Regions from separate parts of the Homo sapiens genome. Here region 2 is linked to region 1. A link means that fine-mapping ties the variant in region 1 to the expression of a gene that starts in the linked region. Tissue or cell type: whole blood. Region 1 holds a variant in brackets; the other region holds the start of a gene. All regions are shown on one strand. Distances are between the middles of the regions.

The links. PIP is the estimated chance that this variant, and not a neighbour inherited with it, causes the effect.
Region 2: it holds the start of SLC7A7, and the variant in region 1 is fine-mapped to the expression of SLC7A7 in whole blood (TOPMed, PIP above 0.99). The same link has a PIP of 0.9 or more in tibial nerve.

The regions. Positions count from the first base shown.
Region 1 is chr14:22,774,809-22,777,568 of GRCh38, reverse strand. It overlaps SLC7A7 (solute carrier family 7 member 7), which reads left to right. Exons shown (of 10, transcript NM_003982.4): 5 at 1,251-1,374; 6 at 1,633-1,736; 7 at 2,029-2,125. Among named protein-coding and RNA genes, the nearest start is that of OXA1L, 9.5 kb to the right of the region's middle. The variant A/G (reference allele first, on the strand shown) is at 1,477.
Region 2 is chr14:22,814,060-22,816,685 of GRCh38, reverse strand. It overlaps SLC7A7 (solute carrier family 7 member 7), which reads left to right and starts at 1,251. Exons shown (of 10, transcript NM_003982.4): 1 at 1,251-1,366. RefSeq lists enhancers at 1,162-1,261, 1,450-1,956.

The sequences.
Region 1 (2,760 bases):
AGCCTTACTGTTAAGGATGCTTATAAAGATCATGGCTTTATTGGGCTACAGGGACCTTGAGAGCTCTTTGCATCTTTCTTTTGCCCACCAGTTAGGATGGCTCCTGAGGTTCTCAAACTGAGGAAGGGGTGGGCAGACATATCTTCCAGGCTGCTAGTCAGATACATACACTTCTCTTCCTACTGAAGGCCTATCTTATTCTCTGAAGATGTTAAATTTCACAATTTGCCTCCATAATTTCTTTTTATATTTCTCAACCTTGAGGCAAAATTGCCAATGTTGATAATCTTAGAGATGGAATCCTGACACCAAAAGATCTTTGGGGTATAAAACAAAACAACCTCCCATTTTCCTGTGCGTTATGATGCTGGGGACAGTCTTTGTTAATCCCCCCCGCCCTGCTTTTTTTTTTTTTTTTTTTTTTTTAGACAGGGTCTGGCTGCCTTGCCCAGGCTGGAGTGCAGTGGCCCAGTCATGGTTCACTGCAGCCTTGACCTCCCCAGGCTCAAGTGATCCTCCCACCTCAGCCTCCCAAATAGCTGGGATTACAGGCATGCACCACCACGCTTGGCTAATTTTTTTTTTTTTGGTTTGTTTTTGGAGACAGAGTCTCGCTCTGTCGCCCATGCTGGAGTGCAGTGGCACAATTTTGGCTTACCACAACCTCCGCCTCTCGAGTTCAAGTGATTCTCGTACCTCAGCCTCCTGAGTAGCTGGGACTACAGGTGCATGCCACCATGCCTGGCTAATTATTTATATTTTTAGTAGGAACAGGGTTTTGCCATGTTGGCCAGGCTGGTCTTGAACTCCTGACCTCAGGTGATCCACCCGGCTCGGCCTCCCAAAGTGCTGGGATTACAGGCGTGAGCCACCACGCCCAGCTGCTTGGCTAGTTTTTTGTAGAGACAGGGTTTTGCCATGTTGCCCAGGCTGGTCTCCAACTCCTAGACTCGAGCCATCTCCCTGCCTCAGCCTCCCAAAGTGTTAGTACTACAGGCATGAGCCACTGCTCCCAGCTGCACAGTCCTGTCTCCTAATATGATATTCCTTTCCCCTAATGTTCTTTAGTTCTTAAGTGTTCAGAGCTTCAGCCACTATCCAGGGCACCGTCAAAGACAAATGCATTGAGGAAATGTAGCAACAGTCTCCATCCCTGGAAAGACCGGTGTGGCAGGGAGAGTCTAAGGATTAAAGGAGAGATAGGGATATGACTGTGGGACTAATGTGCATTTTATTCTATTTGGCTGTAGGAACCTGCCCCTCTCCATTGGCATCTCCATGCCCATTGTCACCATCATCTATATCTTGACCAATGTGGCCTATTATACTGTGCTAGACATGAGAGACATCTTGGCCAGTGATGCTGTTGCTGTGGTAAAGGATTTTCACTAGCAGAAGGTTGAGGGTGTCTTGTGGGGTACTGGGTATATTCTGGCTCTTGAAAGTCCTGGAAAGGGGGTAGACAGCCTTGAAAGG[A/G]GTTCATTTAGAATACCGGGCTTGCAAGAAGGTCCTGTTAACCCCACTGTGGAAGAAAGGTTGGAATACCTAATAAGGGGAATCTGGGGGCATGCCCATCCATGTCTTTCATCCCTTTTAGATCCTGCTAATGACTCTTCCATTCTTTTCCCTTAGACTTTTGCAGATCAGATATTTGGAATATTTAACTGGATAATTCCACTGTCAGTTGCATTATCCTGTTTTGGTGGCCTCAATGCCTCCATTGTGGCTGCTTCTAGGTAAGAGTGGCAACTTTTGTGAGGGGTGTATCATCAAAGGGCTATGCAGTGGACAGAACTTACAGGACCCAGCCTTTGATTACTTGTGTTCTCCAACCGATACCACAACCTCTTTCTTCTTGTTTCTAGCAGAAGCCTGCAGTTGTCATTAATCTTAATACTGAGCTCCAGTCCATATTATCCAAATACTTTTGAAGGAAGGGATGGCAGAGAGGGAGGGCCATGTGGCAGGTGAACCAGGCTGCACCGTGTCCACCAATTTTCTCAGCTTCTCCTATCTTACCTAACATAGGCTTTTCTTTGTGGGCTCAAGAGAAGGCCATCTCCCTGATGCCATCTGCATGATCCATGTTGAGCGGTTCACACCAGTGCCTTCTCTGCTCTTCAATGTAAGTGAACTCAAGGATGAGACTGAAAGCCAGATTGCGGGGGAAACTTTAGTAACAGCAGAAGCGACTGTTCTAGCTTCCTGAAAGCTCTGAAAGATTCCAATAGAAAAACTATTGGTGGATCAGAATGTTCACCACGGGCAAGGCACTATGCTAACCGCTACAGGGGAAATCCAAATGCTCTAAGGAATGGTACACCTCTGCTCTAAGATAAGGCAAAAAGTACATGGAATACACTGTAATGATTGATTGCCATGACAGATAGTGAGTGATACGGTGTTTAAGAGAAGAAACGATCACTTCCATGGGAGTAGAGGGTGAAGAATTACATCTAGAAGTGTGTGTGTGTGTCTTAAAATCCACCAAAGTGTTCTCAGAAAAAAAAAGTGCATCTTGATGGCTAGGGTTGCAAATGGTAGAGATGGGCTTTAGGTAGGAGAAATAGCATCAGAAAATCCTGTGATAAAGCAGTATGGGTTTTAATACAGGTTGAGTATCCCTAATCTGAATATCCAAAATCTGAAATGCTCTAAAAATCTGAAACTTTTTGAGTGCTGACTTGACACTCAAAGGAAATGCTCATTGGAGCATTTTGGATTTTCAGAACAGGGATACTCAACATGTAGGAGGAGATA
Region 2 (2,626 bases), 39 kb before region 1:
GTCTATTTCTGTTGGTAAAAGAGACTCAGAATACCAGATTTAAAGTAAATAATAAAGATAGCATAAACTATGTGATTTCCAAAAAGTGCTCAGCTTCCTCTGCCTGTTCTGGGCCTGTCTGTCCAACAGAATTCAGTGAAATCTGATTTCCTCATATTCTTTTTTAATTTTTTTTTTTTGAGATGGAGTCTTGCTGTGTTGCCCAGGCTGGAGTGCAGTGGCCTAATGTGGGTTCACTGCAAGCTCCGCCTCCCGGGTTCATGCCATTCTCCTCATTCTCCTGCCTCAGCCTCCCGAATAGCTGGGACTACAGGTGCCCGCCACCACGCCCGGCTAATTTTTATTTTTTTGTGTTTTTAGTAGAGACGGGGTTTCACCGTGTTAGCCAGGATGGTCTTGATCTCCTGACCTTGTGATCCGCCTGCCTCAGCCTCCCAAAGTGCTGGGATTACAGGCGTGAGCCACCGCGTCTGGCCTGATTTCCTCATATTTTTTAGGAAAGTGGAGTCAACTTATATTTGAGGAAGGCGTTTATAGGAATTTATGCTTATCCCAGAGATCTTGGTATGTTTTGTCAAGAATGAAAAGGCACGTGGGTCTGGTGGGGATGCAGTCAGATATTTGATCTCTTGACTGTGTTTCTTTTGAAGTAGTCTGAGGCTCAGACTTTGGGGCAGTGGCCCAGGCTTGGAGGCAACCCCCCAGTCTCTCTTTGCATGGGGAAGTGTGCAGAGTTCTCTTAGAACACCCAGTCACATGGTGTAGAGACTGCTCTTACACTTCCTGTAATCTCAGCATGGGAACAAGCCTTTGTGTCACACTGTGCAACCTTCCTCCCTTTCTTAAATGCTTGGGGTGAGAGAGAAGAGAGGCTAGGGTGGGGCATGGAGGACACAGAGAGAGAGAGTGCTGTGTATTCCTTCCCCGCTACTGTCCTGTCCTCAGCTAACTTGCTCTGGGACAGCTTCCCCAGGGCTACAGATACTGCACTCAGCTGACTGTCCTTTCTTCTGGGCCCCTGGTCCCAGAGCAGAGCTGACAAAGGAGATTCCTGAGAGAGCACCTTCTTATCACAGAAAGTGCTGAGCCAAGAGCTCCTAGCTGCCCCTTTTGCAGATGTGAAGGGCCAGTGAACCTTGGACCCAGATGGTTGCTTAATACTCCTTTCCCCCTCCCTCACTCCTTCCTTTGCGGGCTGCCTCACCTCCTCCACCCTTCTTGCTTAAATCCATAGGCATTTGTCTGGCCTTCCCTTTTACTGCTGGCTGGGAAGGAGGAGCATCAGACCACAGATCCTGGAAGGCACTTCTCTCCCTGACTGCTGCTCACACTGCCGTGAGAACCTGCTTATATCCAGGACCAAGGAGTGAGTGTGCGTTCCACCCTCTTCTCATCTCCACTTACCTTGCTAACCCTCCTCTTTGCTGCTGTGCAGTGTCTAATCGCTTCTTCTCCCGAGTGCCTCTCACCCTAACATCTCTCCATTGCTTGACTAGCCTCTCCCATTTTCCTCTCAGCTGTCTCCTGTTCGGTGTTTTCCAGCATGTGCTGCCTGGCTGCAGCTGTCTCCCTGCCTTGGCTCGGGGTGATATCTCTCCAGCAGCAACTCTGGGGTAGGGAGTGGCCATCAGCTGCCTCCAATCATCCCTAGGTTTTATGGTACATTGGATCGCCCTTCTCTCATTCATACTTTTTTGGGTGATTCAACGATGCTGATGTGAGGGATCGATAGCAGGAGGCTTAGAATACCAGAGAATGGGAAAGGAAAAGCAAGGAAAAGATAATAGCCTGTCTTCTTTCAGGGTGAAGTGGGTCTACTTGGGCTTTGCCAGGGCTGAAGACTCCAGCTAAGGGTTAAGGGATGCTCTTTGGGCAGGAGGATGGTTGTGGGTTTCCAGCAGGTTTCTGAAGCCTTTAGTTTTGGCAGACGTAGAGTCCTTGGGGAAAAGAGCAGTGTCATGAGACGCTCCCACAGATTAGCTGCTGGTAGGGTCAGTTCCTAATGTTGTACCTCAGCACAGGTGATCCCTGAAGCTGAAATTGGAGGGAAGACGGGTTTTGGATAAGGCTGAAAACTCGGGGTCAAGCCATTATAGTTATTTTCTGGGAGCCGCCACACTGCCCCCATGCCTGTCTTGTATTATAGCAGGCTCAGAGAGAACCAACATTTAGTGTTTTGTTTTTGATTTTGTTTTTTTTTTGAGACAGAGTTTTGCTCTTGTTGCCCAGGCTGGAGTGCAATGGCCCAGTCTTAGCTTACCGCAACCTCTGCCTCCCGGGCTCAAGTGATTCTCCTGCCTCAGCCTCCCAAGCAGCTGGGATTACAGGCATGTGCCACCACGCATGGCTAATTTTTGTATTTTTAGTAGAGACTGGGTTTCTAAATGTTGGTCAGGCTGGTCTCGAACTCCCGACTTTAGGTGATCTGCCCGCCTTGGCCTCCCAAAGTGCTGGGTTTACAGATGTGAGCCACAGCGCCCGGCCCAAGATTTAGTTCTCTATTTGGTGAGTCGGGTGGGCAGCAATGTCCTAATGATGAGAGACAGATCCTTTCTCTCTGGCGAATGAGTGCCTTCTCTTAAAAATTCAAGTTGGAGGCTGGGCAAGGTGGCTCACGCCTGTAATC